4 linked regions of the Homo sapiens genome follow. The protein of the gene in region 1 purifies or fractionates together with the protein of each later gene. This does not show direct contact. Each region holds a gene or a part of one and is shown on either strand. Other genes may lie near its edges.

Region 1 (5,294 bases):
AAATCCTGGGAACTTCATACATTGTTGGTGCTAGTACCTTATCAGTTAATTGGGCTCCTTTGAAACGCTGAGGATCTGCTTACACAGGTCAACTCCTTGCGGAAGGGGGTTGGGTAAGGAGCCCTTAGTGTCTTGTAAATTAAGGGGTCAATTGGAGTTTGTCTGGCTTTCCCAGCTAGAAAGAGTCTTATTTACAGGAGAAGCAAGGCTAGGTGATTAAAGAGACAAGCAGGATAAAATTCAAAGTAGCGAGTTAGAGTAAAAACAAGGTTAGGCATTTCAAGACAACCATAGCAGCACCCCCTTCCCCAACACACACAGGCACTGATTTTCCCCTTCTTTTTCCGCTTCCCAAGTATATAGATGCCAAATTCCTCTTTCTTAGATGTTGTTTTTTGTTTGGTTACCCCCGTTACCTGGAACTTCTTTTCTTCTTCTTCATCTTTTTTTTTTTGTTTTTTTTTTTTTAAAGACAAGGTCTTGCTCTGTCACCTAGGCTGGAGTTCTGGGCTATAGTGATCCTACCACCTCAGCCTCCCAAATAGCTGAGACCACAGGCGTGTGCCACCATGCCCAGCTAATTTTTTATAGACAGGGTCCTCCCATGTTGTCCAGGCTTGTTTCAAACTCCTGGGCTCAAGCAACCCTCTTGCCTCAGCCTCCCAAAATGCTAGGATTACAGGCAGGAGCCACCGCACTCAACCAAGGTTCTCTCTTATTCCTTTTTTTTTTTTTTAATTATTTTAGATTCATGGGGTACATATGCATATTTGTTACATGGGTATATTGTGTAGTGATGGAGACTGGGCTTTTAGTGTACCCGTTATCCAATAGTGACCCTTATACCTGATAGGTAATTTTCACCCCACCCTCCCCTCTTCAGCTGTCCCCAGTGTCTGTTATTTCTGTCTTCATGTCCATGTATACTATTGATTAGCTCCCACTTGCAAATGAGAACACGTGGTATTTGATTTTCTGTTTCTGGGTTAGTTCACTTAGGATGATGGTCTCCAGCTCCATGTTGCTGCAAAGGACATGATTTCGTTCTTTTTTTATGGCTGCCTCTTTTGTTTCTTAAATCTGAATTTCCATGTGGCTTCAATGCTAGTCTGGCCTACCCTTTCCTTCCCAAAGTCACCACCAACTCACTCCCACCCCCACCTCATGCAGTGCACCCCTCACAGCCCCCACCCTTGGCAGTGACATTTGGATTTCCAGGGCCTTTCCTGATCCTTTAGAGACATCCTCTCCCGGCCAAGTCCTGCAAGGGAGACTTGAGTCAGAGGTTCGATGGGCTGGGGTGAGGTGGGCCACACAATTACCACACCCACTCCCAGGCCTATTCCCGGTGATCTAAGCACACAGAAGCAGGCTGGTACTTAGGGAAGAAGGCACCAGTGTATGCCAGAGCTTAGGATGGCGTGAGGACCAAATGGAAAGATAGATATTGTAAGTGGTTGTTGGGAGAAGGAAGGCTGGAGGTGGGGGTACTTTGTGGGCTGCTTCCAGGAGCTCCCACCCACAGGCACAAGTCTTCCTAGCTGGCAGAAGAAGCCAGGAACAAGGCTGAATTCTGACAGAACCCGCCTGGAGCTCCATTTCAGTTGCAGAGACCTTTATCTTATGCAGCTGTCTTTTGCCCAGCCTCCTCTGCAGATGCCATAGGACCTCCTCTTTCTTTTCTTTTCTTTCTTTTTTTTTGAGACTGAGTCTTGCTCTATGACCAGACTGGAATGCAGTGGCACAATCTCAGCTCACTGCAACCTCCGCCTCCCGGGTTCAGGCGATTCTCCTCCCTCAGCCTCCCAAATAGCTGGGATTATAGGCATGCGCCACCATGCCCAGCTAATTTTTGTATTTTTAGTAGAGACAGGGTTTCACTGTGTTGGCCAGGATGGTCTCCATCTCTTGACCTCGTGATTCACCTGCCTCGGCCTCCCAAAGTGCTGGGATTACAGGCATGACCCACCGTGCCCTGCCAGGACTTCCTCTTTCTTTTTTTTTTTTTCTTTTTTTTTTTTGAGACGGAGTTTCACTCTTGTTGCCCAGGCTGAAGTGCAATGGCACGATCTCGGCTCACCGCAACCTCCGCCTCCCAGGTTCAAGCGATTCTCCTGCCTCAGCACCCCCGAGAAGCTGGGATTACAGGCACGCACCACCACGCCCGGCTAATTTTGTATTTTTAGTAGAGATGAGGTTTCTTCATGTTAGTCAGGCTGGTCTCGAACTCCCGACCTCAGGTGATCCGCCCACCTCGGCCTCCCAAAGTGCTGGGATTACAGGCATGAGCCACCGCGCCCTGCCAGGACCTCCTCTTTCTGATATAACACCTGCATTTGTTTGGCAGACATCTGTGTAGTTCTGTTCACAGGAGAAAAAAGTCAGATTACTAAACACCAGTGTTTAACAGTGGCCATCAGTAGGTGGTAGCTTCAGAGAGTATTTGCTTTCTTATCGACTATGGTTTCATGTATTCTCTGTTTTGTTTTTTACTATAAGCATATTTTGTTTTTATATAAGGGAGAAATAAAGCTCTTCTCAATTGGGAGAAATTACTGCCTGCCTATAATGAATGAGGCCCTGCTGGGCACTGGCTGGGGGCTTGATGAGTAGGATATGGTCCCTGTTTTTGGAGGGTCGTCAAACTAAAGAGGAAAGAAGATAGGGGAACAAAACAGTGCGGTTGGTGTTCTAAGTATCCTCTGATCACAGAAGAGAAAGCTGCCCCTACCCAGGGACATGATCCTGAGCCACCTGGATTGTGAGGGAGAATCAGGCATTGATGAGGAGGGGAATGAGGAAGTAGTCTGCCTACAGGGGACATAGCTCGGCACAGCTCCACAGAGCTAGGGGCTGCAACTTGGGGCATGAGAAGAGAGAGCAGCAAGAGAACCATTTGAGAAGGCTGTCCTTTCTCTGTCATCACTCCTGATGCCCTGGTGAGCTCCACGGTGCAGGAACCTCCATGTGTGTGCTGCATCCCCAAGTTCTGGTGGCAGCAGGTGCTTAGCAGCCCTTGTCCAGTCTCGCCTGTGACACTGCTGCTCCCTTCCCCTGTCCTGACCTCCTGGTTGGCTGTCCTGCCAGAGCCTTGCCTGGAAGATGAAATTCCAGCTACCCTGTGGGAGCAGTAACGCCTTCTTCCTTCTTCTCAATCTCCAGAAATGTCTTTCCTCCAGGACCCAAGTTTCTTCACCATGGGGATGTGGTCCATTGGTGCAGGAGCCCTGGGGGCTGCTGCCTTGGCATTGCTGCTTGCCAACACAGACGTGTTTCTGTCCAAGCCCCAGAAAGCGGCCCTGGAGTACCTGGAGGATATAGACCTGAAAACACTGGAGAAGGGTAAGTGGTGACCCTTCAGGTCTCAGTACTTTTCCAAGGAGCTGGGATACAGGCTTACTGCTTTCTTTCTAAACTCTCTCCTTTTTTTAATTGAAAAGATAATATAACAACATTAGGAAAAATTTAATAACAATTTTTAAACTAGGAATAATTCTGTTACCCTAACACAGTAATTTTGATTTTGGCATATTCCTTTCCATGTGTACATATTACGTAGTTGTGCTTGGCTTAGGTGCTGTTTTACATTTTAGCTTTTCTTATCAAAAGCATTTCTCATTCTCTGTTGTTGTCTCTGTAATTATAATGATAAATTGCTCCATAATATTTAGTAATAATTACAATCTTTTACTAAACCAGTGCTTCCAGAGTGTATTCTGAGGAATTCCAGGCTTGTGGGATCGTCAAACTAAAAGGAGTTCCTGAGTGAACAAGTATGGGAGACACCTTTTATCCAATTCCATGCTCCTGATGCTCAGCACAGACATATGCTTATTAGAATGAGGTGTCTGGATTGCTGCTGATTCAGGCATGGCCAGCCCCTCCCTGTGAAGAAGCTGTGGTGTCTGAGGAATCACTTCAAGGTCACCCGTTAGAGCAGACCTGCCTATCTCCCTCTTCTGGGGGACTGCTAGAATCCATTGTGGACAGCTTAGAGCCACACACCCAAATGTGTTAGCTCTGCCTCCTTGCTGTGTGCTCTCAGTGTTAGAGCTGTAGCTTGGTGGGATTTCAGTCATGCCAGTGGTGTGGCAAGAGAGTTGGAGTGGTGAAGGTCTCATTGATGGCGTGGTCACCATGTTAGCCCCCCAGGTGGAAGTCATCGTCATCTGTTTAGTAAGTAAGGAAGCTTGCGAAAGGAAGGCAGGAGATTGTGCAGGTTTATAGTAGGTCACCTTAGTAAGATACTAGGAGAGAGAGAGACCTGTTAAGCTTTGTTCAACCCAGGGTTTCCCAATCTTATTTGATTACAGACTCTTCTCCCCACCCTCTCACCCACCTGACCCCATTTTTTTTTTTTCCACATAACATCTACGGGAACATGGATCCCTCTGGGAAATACTAAAATAATTAAGGGCTCATATTTATTGAGCCCTCACCAACTCTATATTACCAGACATTGTGGTGAGCACTTTTATATTCATCTTTCAATATGCCCTGTGGCCCAAAGTGGAGCTACTAGATATTTGCATTTTACAAATGAGGAAGCTGAGGTTCAAAGAGCAAAAATAACTTGCCCAGAGTTACACAGCTAGATTCAGATTCAGTTGGACCTTAGAGCTGGGCTTGTTGAACTACAGTACTGTACTACCCCAAAGCATTTTATTCCTAGGCATCTTCTATCCTCTCCTTCGTTAATAATATTGCAGGTAACATATTTAGGTTAAAAATTTGAGACTTTTTCAGTTTGGGCCATGTTTCTGTTCTGAAGGATTATTATACAATATCTGATGACATCAGCAATAGACAAAATGGCCATTTTTCCAGAAATGTCCCACTTCTGAATGTTCAGGTTAGAAAAAAGATTTTCATGGTGGGAGGGACCTACCGGGTATATAACAGGATTCTTAAGCTTGGTTAACTTTCTTCAGGAAGGTGTGTATTCTGTCTGTCTGTGTTTCCTGTGTGTCTTTTCCCACGTGTGAAATGCCTGTCCAGGTCCTCTACTAGGCCGGGTCTCTGACCTTGGCTGGACTTAGTGTGGTTCATGAGCTGCTTAGTGATTGGGGCTGGGCTGGGAGGAGATATCGAATTTCTTTTTTTCCTCTCTTAGAACCAAGGACTTTCAAAGCAAAGGAGCTATGGGAAAAAAATGGAGCTGTGATTATGGCCGTGCGGAGGCCAGGCTGTTTCCTCTGTCGAGAGGTGAGTGCAGATGAGGATCTATTCAGAGAAAGGGATCCTGGCAAGTAGGGGCCATTGTTTTCCGGCCAGAACCAAGGGTCGGTAAGCCA
Region 2 (5,294 bases), on another chromosome or scaffold:
AGTGGGCTGTGGCATAGCACGCCCTGCAGGGGAGGTGAGGGGGAGACCCGCAGCTTCAGGGGCGGGACCCAGCCCTTGGCGATGTGACAGGTCACTCTCATGCCCAGCCTTCCTTCTTGTCCATAATGGACATGGAGAGGACTTCTGTGCTTGGTACTCTTTAATTCTGAGAAGAGAACTCTAGCTCTCTCTCTCTAAGCTCAGCAGAAAGGAGTGGTAAAAGTGGAGGCTCTTCTAACATACCTGCCGCAAATTACACTGCACCTGTTCCTTGGCAAGGTGCAGCCTGGGATTCAAGTTCAAGGGGCTGCGAAACTTCTATTACTCATCACTTTAGATATGAAAGCATTTTAAATGTTTTTTTTAAATCCATTAAAAAAAAAAAACCTCTGTTACTAATTGTTAGTTGCTTCTTGCAGGGTTATATCAGTTCCTAGCTTGAGGTTTTCCAGGGACTTTAAAACCTCAGCAAAGAATAGTTTTAAGGACTCCTCCCCCATTTCCATTAAAGCAGATGGAGCATAGGCACAGTGCAAACATTCCATATCTCGGTGAGTAATGTGGACTTCGTACCCTATGCAATTTTGTTCTTTGTGTCTTAATCATAAAGGAACCAGCCTAGGTCTCATAAAACCACAAAGGGCCTCTTGATTTGTAACTGATACATGGGGAATTAAACTTTTGCCAGAATGTTAAGTTTAAGGAAGTTATTTTAAAATAAGTGAGTTACTGATGTTAATAGGGTAATAAAATTTTAAAAGCTTCAGTCTGTACTATCTTTGTGGTTCTGAATAGAGGATGAATCCTATTTTTACTGCTTATTTCTGAGAACTTTCAGTAAAATTATATTTGATACAGAATATAAATATGAACATACCATTTATTATTTTCTTTGGAAAAGGCAGACTTATATATAAATATTTAGTATCTTAACCACCCACATTTGTGGAACTGCAAGTGTAACAAAGAGTGATGTAAAAGCAATGTGTAAAGTTGTAAACATTCTGTCTCACGAAGCCATAAATTTTGGATTTCCTATTGTTTGTTCTGCAATGACAAATTAATAAAGTATTGGGTTTGGGATCATCAATAATTAGTAATAAAAACACATTAATTTAATGTGATAGAAGGAAACACCAAGGAATCACTTTATAGTTTCAAAATAAATGGTTGTAGAAAGAAGATTTTCTTTATTTTAGACTTTCCATTTCAACACGGTTGAAGAGGTTCATTCAAGATTCCAGAGTCTGAATGCTGATATCAACAAACGTGGAGCGTCTTATATTCTGAAACTTGCTAATAGATTATATGGAGAGAAAACTTACAATTTCCTTCCTGTAAGTACTTTGCCCTTCACATTCTAAAACCCCACTAGACAGTGCAGATATTTTCCAGCACAATCAAGTCATGGAGGTCAGTTTTAATATTTGTAAACTTTCAGAAAAACAATACAGAAGGCAAACATGGCAAAAACAATATGGAAGGCAAACACGACAGAATGCAAACTTTAATTGACATGGTGATTTTGTGTTACAGTCTTTTTAGTGAAAAGATAGCTCTTGGAGGTTTTACTGAAGCAAGAGTACAATCAGTGTTTGTGAAATCTTAGTCAAAGTTCAGAAAAGAGTGGTAATTTCTATATAACAACAACAGTATAAGGGTTAGGCTTACCACTACTGGAATGCACAGTTAAAAGTGGCTAAGATCGTAAATTTAATGTTAAATGATTTTTACTACTATAAGAAAAACTATAAGAGTTAGAAATTTTGTGTTACATGGAATTGTAGCCTTTTAGGACAATTTCTGTTGCTTTTTGGGATTTTAGAAAACAATTTCTATATGTAGTAGGAGTTATATATATATTTCCTTTTCCTTTTTTTTAATAGGAGTTCTTGGTTTCGACTCAGAAAACATATGGTGCTGACCTGGCCAGTGTGGATTTTCAGCATGCCTCTGAAGATGCAAGGAAGACCATAAACCAGTGGGTCAAAGGACAGACAGAAGGTGAGAGCCTGGGCAGAATGGAATCATTATGCGCTGGTCATGTCATTCGTTTCCTCAGTCCGCCTTCCCTACCTGCAGTTATTCCCTCCCCAGCTCCCACAGTCCTGGCGCACATCGTGGTTACAGTCAGAGGACGCTGCCGGTGCGTGAAGTCTGCACTGCACGTTGCTGGACAGCTCTCACATGTTCGAAGTTCACCAGAGTGGAAACTTAAACATGATTTAACTCAAGCAGCTAAATCCTTTTTTCTCATCAGCTCCCCAAAACTTTTAAAGTTGCATTTCAAAGTTAAAACCAACATTGGCAGGCGCGGTGGCTCATGCCTGTAATCCCAGCACTTTGGGAGCCCAAGGCGGGCGGATCATTTGAGGTCAGGAGTTCAAGACCAGCTTGGCCAACATGATGAAACCCTGTCTCTACTAAAAATACAAAAAATTTAGCCAGGTGTGGTAGCACACACCTGTAATCCCAGCTACTCTGGAGGCTGAGGCAGGAGAATCTCTCGAACACAGGAGGTAAAGGTTACAGTGAGCCGAGATCATGCCACTGTACTCCAGCCTAGGCAACAGAGCGAGACTCCGTCGTAAAAAAAATAATAAAAATAATAAAAAATAAAAAATAAAGTTAAAACCAACACTGAATACAGCAAAAAAGGAATTAAAATTTTGAGGAGAATTCAGCCTGCCAAAAATTACCTAATACTCATATGGAAAGAAATGTCCTGGAATTTCATGGAAATACCTGAAATCAATATTCACAAACTACTGTGGTTGTAAATTTTTTGCCAACATCTTGTCCAGTAAAAAAGTTGTGGTAGGTGGGGACTGACTTGCTTTTAGGGTGCAATTTATTTCTTTGCTACATCTCTCTTCTTACATAGCCCTGTATTAGTCAACCCACTCCAGAAGACCTGTCTTCCATTATGGGAATTGTTCCCAGCCATACTTATGGTCACGAAGGTGACCTTTATTTCCATGGAGTATGTTCTGCTGGTTTTTTTGTTTGTTTGTTTGTTTTTTGTTTTTAAGAGACAGAGTCTTGCTCTGTCGCCCAGGCTTGAGTGCAGTGGTGCGATCGTGGCTCACTGCAGCCTTGACCTCCTGGGCTCAAGGAATCTTCTCATCTCCACCTCCCAAAGCACTGGGACTGCAGGTGTGCGCCACCATGCTTGGTCTTGTTCTGCCTTTTGGATATTGTTTAAACCTTTTTTTGTGAGAGTAGGCATCTACTCAGCGATTTGAAGAAGTGATTTACTGATGACTAAAGATATCTTCATTAAGAATTTTTTTTTTCTAAAAAAGAATGGTTGTTACAAAATAAGGCTCATTGTTTATCATACAGTCCAGAAAAGGAGAATTTTCCTGTCTTTTGTCTTTCGGCACATTTGACTTGTTTAAAATGTCAGGTCCTTGTGGGAAGTTTGTGTGTCATCCTGGTCTGTCTGCCCCACAGGTTGTTATACTTAAAGTAGAGACATGTTAGTGAGTAGGGCTTTCCTAAGTTAATATCTTGTTAAATGAAAATTAAGTAGAAATTATATATTTGAATTGCATTTCCGTGCTAATATATTGTCAGTTCAAATTTGGAATTCCGATTTGGATTTTTTTTACGCTAACTTGATTTTTTTTTAGGAAAAATTCCGGAACTGTTGGCTTCGGGCATGGTTGATAACATGACCAAACTTGTGCTAGTAAATGCCATCTATTTCAAGGGAAACTGGAAGGATAAATTCATGAAAGAAGCCACGACGAATGCACCATTCAGATTGAATAAGGTGAGGTGAGGTAACTGTACAGAGTCATGCATTGCTCTAAAAGAATGCAGAGAATAATTTCAGTGATTTTTTAAAACTGTTCAGAAAGACAGAAAAACTGTGAAAATGATGTATCAGAAGAAAAAATTTGCATATGGCTACATCGAGGACCTTAAGTGCCGTGTGCTGGAACTGCCTTACCAAGGCGAGGAGCTCAGCATGGTCATCCTGCTGCCGGATGACATTGAGGACGAGTCCACGGGCCTGAAGAAGGTATGGCTCCTGGGCTTCATGCTTTGTGGTTCCTCTTGCATGTGTGTGTCGCATGGTAGGTAGGTGCTTGTTAAGTGTTCACTGATGGTGCATTTTCCAGTAGTTTGTCATTCCTTTGTAAATGTAGCCCATCAACACTTACTACACTAAAGCCCAGAGTTAATTTTTTTTTAAATTTACTTATAGAGACAAGGTCTCACTATGTTGTTTAGGCTGGTCTTGACCTCCTGGCTTCCAGCAATCCTCCTGCCTCAGCCTTCTGAGTAGCTGGGACTATAGCTGTGAGCCACTGTGCCCGGCTAACGTTTCATTTTTCAAGAAAGATGGCCAGCTACTTTCAGTGGACACTTGTGATGGGGTCATTAAAGATCTATACTAAATATAATACTGGTTAGTGGCAGCTCATGGAAAGGCTCTTGAATTAGCTTTAGAGGAAATTACAGTAAGATGAGGATTGTTTTACTGAGGAAAAAGATTGAAAAGCCCCAAATAGTGTAGCATATATCTTCATCACGTACTATAAAATTCTATTATTACACTGTTTGTTCTCATCACAATTCATATAGATAGTGAATTAAATTTTCAATGGGTACAAGACAGAAAAAGCCTCATGTGACATGTTAGGCCTATTTACTAGTATGATCTTTGCATGAGGTTTCCATTATATGTAGGGACTCTAGCCTGCTCTGTGCTCTCCGTCTCCTCCCTATCCACCTATTCATCATCCTTGCTATCAGGAAGGGGGTCTAATGTTAATCATTTGCATGTACAGACTTTTAATACATTGTATAACAATCAATGTGGCCTTTCTTTTGGTTGTATTTTTGCATTAGTTTTTTTTCTGATTGTAAAGTGAAAATCTCTAGCCTCTTAAAAGGAATTATCAGCACCATTAGAAGAAGTAGAGTGATGGTTCTATTCCAGTCCAATAGCTATAACAATAGTAATGATAATAGCTGACATTTATGTAGCACTATGGGCCAAGCACTTTATATACATCATTTCATTTAATGCTCTCAACAATCTATAAGGTAGATATAAGTAATGTCCACATCACATTTCAGATGAGGAACTAGCTCCAGTGCATAATCTGCCTTTAAAATTTTTACCTAGGAGCTAAAGTTATTAGATATTACTTCAGCTTCAGTGGGATTCAGACTAAATAGAAGAAATATTTTAAATTTCTTCTAGCACTACTCAACCTGGAAGTAATAGCAGCTGTCATGACCTATCACTGTAATCCATTGTGGTAGGGGTTTAGTAA
Region 3 (5,756 bases), on another chromosome or scaffold:
CACCCTCAGCCACCTGGCTCTCCACCTTCGGCCTACACACCCTCAAGCCAGAACTTCTCCAGGACTCCTGGTGACTTGCCAGCTTTTCTGTTACCCTCGGCCACAGTCAGGGTCCCTGGATGGAAGGGGAAAAGGGAGAGGTTCTGGAGGGACAGGGAGAACCTGTCCTGTTTGCACTTTTTTTTTGTTTTTTGTTTTTTTTGAGACGGAGTCTCGCTCTATCACCAAGGCTGGAGTGCAGTGGCACAATCTCAGCTCACTGCAACCTCCGCCTCCCTGGTTCAAGCGATTCTCCTGCCTCGGCCTCCTGAGTAACTGGGATTACAGGCATGCGTCACCACGCCCAGCTAATTTTTTGGATTTTTAGTAGAGATGGGGTTTCACTATGTTGATCAGGCTGGTCTCGAACTCCTGACCTCAGGTGATCCGCCCACCTTGGCCTCCCAAAGTGTTGGGATTAAAGGCATCAGCCATTGCACCTGGCCCTTACTTGCACTTTCTAATGCAAACCAGGCCTGCGCACTGCCTTGGGTCCTAAAATCATTGCATTGACTGGGTCTTCTCAAAATCCTATATCCAAGCATCTTAGGTCTTCAGCTCCACCTCTGAGGACCCACTGGGGAGTCTCAGGAAACAGGGAGGGGTCTTTCATCTCAGGAAAAACATGGAGCTCCTATCTCTACCGCCCACCCCGTGCTCTACCCTTCTTCCTCTCTGCAGAAGGAGCTCAGTGAGGACATCCGAAGGACCCATGATGCAAAGCAGGGCTCCGAGAGCCCTGCCCAAGCAGGGAGAGAGTCAGAGGCCCTGAAGGCCCAGCTGGAAGAGGAGAGGAAGCGGGTGGCCCGGGTGCAGCATGAGCTGGAGGCGCAGAGGAGCCAACTGCTGCAGCTGAGGACCCAGCGGCCCTTGGAGAGGCTGGAGGAGAAGGAAGTGGTAGAGTTCTACCGGGACCCCCAGCTGGAGGGCAGCCTGTCCAGGGTGAAGGCCCAGGTGGAGGAGGAGGGCAAGCGGCGGGCTGGCCTGCAGGCAGACCTGGAAGTGGCAGCCCAGAAGGTCGTGCAGCTGGAAAGCAAGAGGAAGACCATGCAGCCTCATCTGCTGACCAAGGAGGTCACCCAGGTGGAGAGGGACCCCGGCCTGGACAGCCAGGCGGCCCAGCTCAGGATCCAGATCCAGCAGCTCCGCGGGGAGGATGCCGTCATCTCGGCCCGGCTGGAAGGGCTGAAGAAGGAGCTACTGGCCCTTGAGAAGAGGGAGGTGGACGTGAAGGAGAAGGTCGTGGTGAAAGAGGTAGTCAAGGTGGAGAAGAATCTGGAAATGGTCAAGGCAGCCCAGGCTCTGAGGCTGCAGATGGAGGAGGATGCTGCGCGGAGGAAGCAGGCGGAGGAGGCTGTGGCCAAGCTACAGGCTCGCATCGAAGACCTGGAGCGGGCTATCAGCTCGGTGGAGCCCAAGGTCATCGTGAAGGAGGTGAAGAAGGTGGAGCAGGACCCAGGGCTCCTCCAGGAGTCCTCCAGGCTGAGGAGCCTCCTCGAGGAGGAGAGGACCAAGAACGCGACGCTGGCCAGGGAGCTGAGCGACCTGCACAGCAAGTACAGCGTGGTGGAGAAGCAGAGGCCCAAAGTGCAGCTCCAGGAGCGCGTCCACGAGATCTTCCAGGTGGATCCGGAGACAGAGCAGGAGATCACTCGGCTCAAGGCCAAGCTGCAGGAGATGGCGGGCAAGAGGAGCGGTGTGGAGAAGGAGGTGGAGAAGCTGCTGCCCGACCTGGAGGTCCTGCGGGCCCAGAAGCCCACGGTGGAGTACAAGGAGGTGACCCAGGAGGTGGTGAGGCATGAGAGGAGCCCCGAGGTGCTGCGTGAGATCGACCGCCTGAAGGCTCAGCTCAACGAGCTCGTCAACAGCCACGGGCGCTCCCAGGAGCAGCTCATCCGCCTGCAGGGTGAGCGCGACGAGTGGAGGCGCGAGCGGGCCAAGGTGGAGACCAAGACGGTGAGCAAGGAGGTGGTGCGCCACGAGAAGGACCCGGTGCTGGAGAAAGAAGCAGAGCGGCTCCGCCAGGAGGTGCGGGAGGCGGCCCAGAAGAGGCGGGCCGCGGAGGACGCGGTGTACGAGCTGCAGAGCAAGCGCCTGCTGCTGGAGAGGAGGAAGCCCGAGGAGAAGGTGGTGGTGCAGGAGGTGGTGGTCACCCAGAAGGACCCGAAGCTGCGCGAGGAGCACAGCCGGCTGAGCGGGAGCCTGGATGAGGAGGTGGGCCGGCGGCGCCAGCTAGAGCTTGAGGTGCAGCAGCTGCGGGCCGGCGTGGAGGAGCAGGAGGGCCTGCTCAGCTTCCAGGAGGACCGCAGCAAGAAGCTGGCCGTGGAGAGGGAGCTGCGGCAGCTGACCTTGAGGATCCAGGAGCTCGAGAAGCGGCCTCCCACGGTGCAGGAGAAGATCATCATGGAGGAAGTGGTCAAGCTGGAGAAGGACCCGGACCTGGAGAAGTCCACGGAAGCCCTGCGGTGGGACCTGGACCAGGAGAAGACCCAGGTAACCGAGCTGAATCGGGAGTGCAAGAACCTGCAGGTCCAGATTGACGTCCTCCAGAAAGCCAAATCGCAGGAGAAGACCATCTACAAGGAAGTGATCCGGGTGCAGAAGGACCGCGTCCTGGAAGATGAGCGGGCCCGCGTGTGGGAGATGCTCAACAGGGAGCGCACGGCCCGGCAGGCCCGGGAGGAGGAGGCACGGCGCCTGCGGGAGCGCATTGACCGGGCCGAGACGCTGGGGAGAACCTGGTCCCGGGAGGAGTCCGAGCTGCAGAGGGCCCGGGACCAGGCCGACCAGGAGTGTGGGCGGCTGCAGCAGGAGCTGCGGGCTCTGGAGAGGCAGAAGCAGCAGCAGACACTGCAGCTGCAGGAGGAGTCGAAGCTGCTCAGCCAGAAGACGGAGAGCGAGCGACAGAAGGCGGCCCAGCGGGGCCAGGAGCTCTCGCGGCTGGAGGCGGCCATCCTCCGCGAGAAGGACCAGATCTACGAGAAGGAGCGGACGCTCCGGGACCTCCACGCCAAGGTGAGCCGGGAGGAGCTCAGCCAGGAGACCCAGACGCGAGAGACCAACCTTTCCACCAAGATCTCCATCCTGGAACCCGAGACGGGGAAGGACATGTCCCCATACGAGGCCTACAAGAGGGGCATCATCGACAGGGGCCAGTACTTGCAGCTGCAGGAGCTCGAGTGTGACTGGGAGGAGGTCACCACCTCGGGGCCCTGTGGGGAGGAGTCTGTGCTCCTGGACCGCAAGAGCGGGAAGCAGTACTCCATCGAGGCCGCCCTCCGCTGCCGGCGCATCTCTAAGGAGGAGTACCATCTGTACAAGGACGGCCACCTGCCCATCTCCGAGTTTGCGCTGCTTGTAGCTGGGGAGACCAAGCCAAGCTCCTCACTCTCCATCGGCTCTATCATCTCCAAGTCCCCGCTCGCCTCCCCGGCCCCCCAGAGCACCAGTTTCTTCTCTCCCAGCTTCTCTCTCGGGCTCGGTGATGACAGCTTCCCTATCGCCGGGATCTATGACACAACCACAGACAACAAGTGCAGCATCAAGACGGCCGTGGCCAAGAACATGCTGGACCCCATCACTGGGCAGAAGCTACTGGAGGCCCAGGCGGCCACAGGGGGCATCGTGGACCTGCTCAGCCGTGAGCGCTACTCTGTGCACAAGGCGATGGAGAGGGGCCTGATCGAGAACACCTCCACACAGAGGCTGCTTAACGCCCAGAAGGCCTTCACCGGCATCGAGGACCCCGTCACCAAGAAGAGGCTCTCGGTGGGCGAGGCCGTCCAGAAGGGCTGGATGCCCCGGGAGAGCGTGCTCCCACACCTGCAGGTGCAGCACCTGACCGGGGGGCTCATCGACCCCAAGAGGACAGGCCGCATCCCCATCCAGCAGGCCCTCCTCTCCGGGATGATCAGTGAAGAGCTGGCCCAGCTCCTGCAGGACGAGTCCAGCTACGAGAAGGATTTGACAGACCCCATCTCCAAGGAACGGCTGAGCTACAAGGAGGCCATGGGCCGCTGCCGCAAAGACCCCCTGAGCGGCCTGCTGCTCCTGCCAGCGGCACTGGAGGGGTACCGCTGCTACCGCTCCGCCTCCCCCACCGTCCCGCGCTCCCTTCGCTGACACGGGCCAAGGAGCCAGTGGGGAAGTGCGTGTGTTGGGCCAGGTAGGATACGTACACCTCTTGCCTCAGAGCAGCCTCATCCCAGGCAGTGGGTCTTCCCTCTGTCCAACCACTGTTTTATTATTTTACTAACATGGTGATGGGCTCCCTCCCCTAACCTTGGTGCCTGATCCATCCCCAGACCAGGACAGCAGCCACTCAGTTCTTCCTCCACCTCCACCCAGTGATCCCAATAAACGAATTCTGTCTCCCCGTGCCATGTGGTGTCCCATTCATTCACATTTGAGAGTGCAGGACCCATGTGTCTGGGGGATGAGTGCAAGGACAGCGTTGCTCAAGTCCTTGCCTGGGCGGACGTGCTCAATTTGCCTGCCTGGGAAACAGGCATCCTCGGAGGGCTGTGCCTCCTTGAGTGCGGGGCAGGGATGCAGTGGCAGGTCATGGAAAGAGATTATGGTTTAAAATCACTAAAGGAGGCCGGGCACAGTGGCTCACACCTGTAATACCAGCATTTAGGGGGGCCAAGGCGGGTGGATCCGAGGTCAGGAGTTCGAGACCAGCCTGACGAACACGGTGAAACCCCGACTCTACTAAAAATACAAAAATTAGCTGGGTGTGGTGGTGCACACCTAAAATTCCCGCTACTCAGGAGGCTGAGGCAGGAGAATCACTTGAACCTGGGAGGCGGACGTTCCAGTGAGCAGAGATCATGCCACTGCACTCTACCCTGGGCAACAGGGTAGACCTGAGACAGCGAGACTCCATCTCAAAAAAAAAAAAAAAAATGGGGGCTTGGTGGCATATGCCTGTAATCCCAGCTACTCGGGAGACTGAGGCAGGAGAACTGCTTGAACCCATGAGGCAGAGGTTGCAGTGAGCTGAGATTATGTCACTGCACTCTAGCCTGGGTGACAGAGTGAGACTCTGTCTCAAAAAAAAAAAAAAAAAAAAAAAAAAATCATGGACTAGCCCCTGTCTCCCCACCTACTCCTTGCCCATTTCCCCACTGTCTCAGTTTGGGCCAGAGCTGTCTCCAGCCCTGTGTCAATGTTCCCCTTGTCAGGAAGCCCAGGTGTCCCCTGTGAGCAGAACAATCAGAAAACTCAGGAACATACCACGTTTATTTATTGTTGTCAAGCCAGAAATGAACCAAAAGAAGCACATCTCAGGTGAAGGAACAACTCCTTATTGCAGTCATAGCCCAGCTCTCCTGGGATCCGGGGAACGCCCTCTCTCCTCTCCCTCACTCCCTCCTGTTTAACTTGGGACTGAACTGGAACTCAACTCTTCCCCCAAACATTTTAAATCCAAAAAGACCAGCAGGGGGCGCCCTTTCCTCAGGGTCTGGCCCTGCAGGCAGGGCAGGTGAGGGCCTGAATACCCACACCCAGCTCTGGCAGGCCCCCTGCCTTCAACTTGGCACTTGTTCCAGTGCCCGGGGACCCCTCGTGCATGGAGCATCTGTGCCTCTATTTTGAAACGGCACCGTCCAACCCAAAAAACAACACAGGATCTCGCTAACCTGCGGGCAGGACTAACCCAGACTCAGCCCTCTGCAGGCTGATGCTGAATTCCTTAGTGCTTTGCTCTCCCC
Region 4 (5,751 bases), on another chromosome or scaffold:
CTGGGCAATGTTTTTCTCTTTCTGTATCTTAAATGGAGCATGTATTTCATTATATACCCTAGCTTGTGTTCCCCCAAAACTGAGCCTAAGACAATATCTTATGTGAAGCTAGTTTCTTTGAGAATGTAATCATAGAAAAGAGGAATGTGAAATAAACAGGGGTGAAGCTAGGCAAAAGGAAAAATCAATATATACAAAGAATATGTTACTAAGTAGGCAACCAGGAAGGGTGACTGGAACTTGATCCCCAGGATCTCAGCTGACAGAGAACTATGTCACAGAAGGGTTTCCCCTAGAAATGAAAGAGGAAAGCATTATCTACCAGTTCATGTCCTCCATTGGTGGAGTGTGGCCACTAGATGCTAACACTGAACTTCAAGCTTGCATATCCACAAGTGCATTACAGATTCCTACAGACAGCTCACGCTGGGGCATCAGAGGCCCTCAGGTGAGGAAAGAAGAGGCAGAACTCTAGGCAATGTGTGTGAGTGGTCCACATAGCCATGGTAGAAAACAAGAGCAAGATCCAGAAGATTTGGAGAGTGCCTAAGAGGCACCCAGTACCATCCACACACAAGTCCCAAGAAAGTCCCAGGACAGTGCAGTTGGATGACTCACAGCCTCCTGCCACCAGAGAAGGGAGCCAGTGGGAAAGACTAAGGTACCTGGGGAAGTGGGACTCGCCTTCAGAAGCCACTCAATGTATCCTCTCTAAAACTGAGGCCAGACTTACCAGCACACCCAACACTGCTCATGAGAAAACAAAGCTTCTCTGAAAGAGGCTTAACGTTCAGGCGCTGAGTGTGTTTGACTAAACAGGAATAACAGGGTTGGGGTAAAACGAGAATTTCAATAAGCTGATGGCAGAGAAGCTTTTGTTGGGGTGAATGAGGCAAGAGTTAGAGAAGGGCAGGAGAGAGCCCGCCCAGGGAAGGGACACAGGAAATCAGAAAGGAATTTCCTCTAGAACCAAGGTGCAGAATCGAGGAAGAAAATGAGGGAGACCAGGATTCATAGAGGAGCTTCCTTCCTCTGGGGAGGAAAATCCCAGGTGGAGCAGCAGGGTCTAGCCGAAGCCCCCAGGGTCTGTGGCTCCTGAGAGGTGGATTTGCTGAGGAGAGAAACCTGGACCCAACACTGAAAAAGAGCTAATGTGATGACAGAGCCCAGAGTTTAGGCATGGCAGTGGCCCTGGCCCATCCCAGAGGGAAGTGGCCGGTCAAACAAATGCTAGCAGAGAGGGAAGGACATGGGTGTGGAAGGGAGGGTAAGCCTCTTCTCCTTCATGAATTATCAGCTCACACCTCTTCTCAGCTCACACCAGGAGGCCTGGCACAGGACAGTGAATCATGCCCAAGAAACTGCCTTGTGGCTTCCTGCCTTCCTCCCTCCCTCCCTATCTTTCCTCTTTTCTTTTCTCTTTTCTTTTCTTTTCCTTTCCTTCCCCTCCCCTTCCTTTCTTCCTTCCTTTCTTTCTTTCTTTCCTTCTCTCTCTCTCTCTTTCTTTCTTTCTTTCCTTTCTTCTTTATCTATCTCTGTTTCTTTCTCACTTCCTTTCTCCCTTCCATGAACCTACAGCTCTATTCAGGAGAACAATGACTGTCCATTGACTTAACACCCATGATAACCAGGCACTGTGTGACGCTGAAGTAGAACAAGGGGCTTTCAGAACCTGGTGGAAGGAGCTGGGCATCAGGTTCAAGGGAGTAACACAGTCGTGGAACATTGGGAAAGGAGGAGCTATTCACATGCCTGAGATGTAAGGATGTCTGGATTTTCCAAGGGCCGCGTCTAGTAAGAGAGTGTGTATTGAGGGCAACTCTGAGTTAGTGACTTGAGGTTCATCCTGTAGTGATCAGAGGAAATGGCTGGTGTATGAACCTAGGGAATCAGCACGCTCCTCTTCCTATGTCACTCCTGGAGAAGAAAGATACCACAAGAGGCAGGGTCTTCAGGGCTGAGCCACAATGTCACACAGATCCAGTCAATCCTGCCTGTCCATCTCAATGACATCTACTATCCCTGATCAACACGGCACCTTAAGGCGCCCTTCACAGTGAAAGCAACTTATTTCCAAAGCAGGCATTTTGCCTTCCATTGCTCCTCCCAGGTCCAAATCCAGTAAGAGACTGAAAATCAGATGATTCACTTATTCTGCACCATCCCCATGGCCTCGCAGAACCAGAAATGCCTATTGTTATTTCCATGTCCACTTCAACCATGAGGAAGCCCAATAGGACTAATCTGGCTAAAGATTAGGGCCCAGGCCAAGAGGCCTGGCTCGTTCTAGTCCTAGGAGCATGGTACTTCCTCCTAATTTAATCCATTGCCATTCAAGAAGACCTTTGCCCACAGCAACCACACCACAAAGGGTGGACAGTGAGTCAGGCCCAGGTGACATCACTGTCAGAGCTTAAGTGACAAAAAATGTTAAGCCAGAGATACTTATCACAAAAGCTGGAATGAAGTTAGAGCAGTCTTTTAAAAAATCCAATTTTCTTAAGGCAGGGCTCATTTTCTATATAAATACCAGCTAACAAGAGACTCTTCACCAGATCCCAGAGGCTGAACACCTCGACCTTCTCTGCACAGCAGGTGAGTCTCCGCATTAGGAACACCTTAATATTCTCCAATAGTTTCTTTATTTTGATTGAGATCTCTTTGCTATGCAATGAATATATTTATTTTAAATGCAATAACGACTTTTGTTTAAGGTGACCTTATACATATTTTGACTTTCCACTCAGATTACAGGTGTGGAACTTAGGATCAGAAAAGGGGAGTGATTTCTGTAAAGGCTTGCTAAGTTAGCAAGACAATATACCCACTTCAAGAGCACTCTCCTGTCAACATGTATTGAAAATTTTTAATATAGAAGGCACTACATTGGCAATTTTGATGATCAAAAGATAAGTTTTTCTTTATTGCATGAATGTATAATCCATTAGAAAACATATACTTGACTAAAATTTGCAAACATACAGCATGGGGAGTGATTAGCAGAGAGGGAAAGCAAGTATCATGCTGTGGCAAAACGAGGAAGGTGAGAGCATCAGGAAGGACAGCCATGAGAGGTGGGCATGTGTGGGGAGGCAGCGATGATGTGGAGAGCCTGCCAGAGAGCATGTGCAGCAGGCACAGTGTGAACAGAGGCTCCCAGGTGGATTGTGGGAGCCTTAGGGGGAAGTTTAGATAAGAGTTCTCCTGGGAGAACTATCGCACTCTATAAGGAGGACATGAGTGAGTAGATTCTAGACTGCTGACCTTAAAATCTTTCCAACTTATGGAAAAACTGAGGTGTCACATCAATCTTCAGCCAATGACACACAGCCAAGAGTGGTATTAAAAGTGATTTAATCAGGGAAGAGCAAGAAACATGCATTTCTTTTCACTCAATTCCTCAGATGATCCCTGAGCAGCTGAAGACCAGAAAAGCCACTAAGACTTTCTGCTTAATTCAGGAGCTTAGAGGATTCTTCAAAGAGTGTGTAAGCGAAAGCTTCAGAGTATATATTTGCATATTTGTATGTGTTTTCATGTTGTACGTAGGTTTTTAGATGTACCAGGAAGAAAAGAAGCATAAAGAAAGGCTCCATTTACACGATGTGGAAGAAATCAACTTTACCTTATTCTCTGGAAGATAAGTGGGGATCACCAAAGCATCCCATGATCTCAAATTCAGGGAAAAAGAAAGAAAAGAGAGGCTCTCAGTTCTGAAGGAGAATGAAATGACAGATATTTGTCATTAAACTGGGCTTCATTCCTACTTAATCAAAGCACTGAATTAGCTGTTTTGTCTCTAGGTCCAGCATCCTTTGAAGCATGAGTTCTTACCAGCAGAAGCAGACCTTTACCCCACCACCTCAGCTTCAACAGCAGCAGGTGAAACAACCCAGCCAGCCTCCACCTCAGGAAATATTTGTTCCCACAACCAAGGAGCCATGCCACTCAAAGGTTCCACAACCTGGAAACACAAAGATTCCAGAGCCAGGCTGTACCAAGGTCCCTGAGCCAGGCTGTACCAAGGTCCCTGAGCCAGGCTGTACCAAGGTCCCTGAGCCAGGTTGTACCAAGGTCCCTGAGCCAGGCTGTACCAAGGTCCCTGAGCCAGGTTGTACCAAGGTCCCTGAGCCAGGCTACACCAAGGTCCCTGAACCAGGCAGCATCAAGGTCCCTGACCAAGGCTTCATCAAGTTTCCTGAGCCAGGTGCCATCAAAGTTCCTGAGCAAGGATACACCAAAGTTCCTGTGCCAGGCTACACAAAGCTACCAGAGCCATGTCCTTCAACGGTCACTCCAGGCCCAGCTCAGCAGAAGACCAAGCAGAAGTAATTTGGTGCACAGACAAGCCCTTGAGAAGCCAACCACCAGATGCTGGACACCCTCTTCCCATCTGTTTCTGTGTCTTAATTGTCTGTAGACCTTGTAATCAGCACATTGTCACCCCAAGCCATAGTCTCTCTCTTATTTGTATCCTAAAAATACGTACTATAAAGCTTTTGTTCACACACACTCTGAAGAATCCTGTAAGCCCCTGAATTAAGCAGAAAGTCTTCATGGCTTTTCTGGTCTTCGGCTGCTCAGGGTTCATCTGAAGATTCGAATGAAAAGAAATGCATGTTTCCTGCTCTTCCCTCATTAAATTGCTTTTAATTCCAGTCTTGGCTGTGTGTGTCATTGGCAGAATCTTCCTCCTTCCTTGTTTCCCCATTGTGAGTCAGGACCTATAGACAGAGAGGAGTTGATGTAGAAGTCATCTATTTAACCCCAGTACTGTTTGTTTCTATGGGTGTATGGGGTTACAGTTGAGGTGTTCCTGGAATGGCAATGGGCCTGGTGTGATGTTGAATAGAAGTTGTCACTTTGGGCAGCCACAGGCTCTCCTCTTGCACTGGACTGAGTCATGCCTGACTCCAAGCCACCTGTTCCAAGACACCTCTGATCCTCAGTATCCTGACAACAAATCTCCTGTTTGTTCCAAGAAAACTTTACTCCTACATATTTTGACTGGACAGTCTATTTTTCTTCATTTGTTTTACCTTCTAGATACCCCACCACACACATACACACACACACACACGCACACACACACACAGAGTCATTCACAAAGAGAAACATTCATTTTAAATAGCCACACAGTCACATAATCATTCACACAAGCTCTACCCTCTCTAGCTCAATGTTATTTTTTCTAAGTAACTCTTATGTGCAGAGATCCCTAAAGATGGACCAGCAAGAGAGAGAGAGGAGGATACGCAGCACCTCCCTTGTAGAATTTGCAGTCTTGTTTACGAGTTAGGATATTCATGCCCTTCTAATACAAATGAGTACACAACCATACACACAAACACACACACACACACTCCCAGTGGTGTTCCAAAATAACCCTCAGAAATCTATTAAGTGATTTTTATTTTATTATTATTATTATTATTATTATACTTTAAGTTTTAGGGTACATGTGCACAATGTGCAGGTTAGTTACATATGTATACATGTGCCATGCTGGTGCGCTGCACCCACTAACTCATCATCTAGCATTAGGTATATCTCCCAATGCTGTCCCTCCCCCCTCCCCCCACCCCACAACAGTCCCCAGAGTGTGATGTTCCCCTTCCTGTGTCCATGTGTTCTCATTGTTCAATTCCCACCTATGAGTGAGAATATGCGGTGTTTGGTTTTTTGTTCTTGCGATAGTTTACTGAGAATGATGATTTCCAATTTCATCCATGTCCCTACAAAGGACATGAA

Evidence for each region.
Region 2: the proteins of PRXL2A (region 1) and SERPINB1 purify together in Homo sapiens (affinity purification with mass spectrometry; one large-scale study listed by BioGRID and IntAct). This does not show direct contact.
Region 3: the proteins of PRXL2A (region 1) and EVPL purify together in Homo sapiens (affinity purification with mass spectrometry; one large-scale study listed by BioGRID and IntAct). This does not show direct contact.
Region 4: the proteins of PRXL2A (region 1) and SPRR3 purify together in Homo sapiens (affinity purification with mass spectrometry; one large-scale study listed by BioGRID and IntAct). This does not show direct contact.

Annotation. Positions count from the first base shown.
Region 1 is NC_000010.11:80,417,304-80,422,597, forward strand, and holds part of PRXL2A (peroxiredoxin-like 2A isoform 1 precursor), read left to right. Parts: intron 1-2,696; exon of another isoform or gene 2,697-3,162; 5' UTR 3,163-3,164; coding exon 3,165-3,342; intron 3,343-5,113; coding exon 5,114-5,205; intron 5,206-5,294. UniProt on the Homo sapiens protein: Involved in redox regulation of the cell. Acts as an antioxidant. Inhibits TNFSF11-induced NFKB1 and JUN activation and osteoclast differentiation. May affect bone resorption and help to maintain bone mass.
Region 2 is NC_000006.12:2,834,592-2,839,885, reverse strand, and holds part of SERPINB1 (leukocyte elastase inhibitor), read left to right. Parts: intron 1-419; exon of another isoform or gene 420-551; intron 552-1,199; coding exon 1,200-1,337; intron 1,338-1,886; coding exon 1,887-2,004; intron 2,005-3,635; coding exon 3,636-3,778; intron 3,779-3,862; coding exon 3,863-4,030; intron 4,031-5,294.
Region 3 is NC_000017.11:76,005,508-76,011,263, reverse strand, and holds the end of EVPL (envoplakin), read left to right. Parts: intron 1-720; coding exon 721-4,161; 3' UTR 4,162-4,419; downstream 4,420-5,756. UniProt on the Homo sapiens protein: Component of the cornified envelope of keratinocytes. May link the cornified envelope to desmosomes and intermediate filaments.
Region 4 is NC_000001.11:152,999,199-153,004,949, forward strand, and holds SPRR3 (small proline-rich protein 3), read left to right. Parts: upstream 1-2,550; 5' UTR 2,551-2,595; intron 2,596-3,404; exon of another isoform or gene 3,405-3,488; intron 3,489-3,803; 5' UTR 3,804-3,822; coding exon 3,823-4,332; 3' UTR 4,333-4,658; downstream 4,659-5,751. UniProt on the Homo sapiens protein: Cross-linked envelope protein of keratinocytes.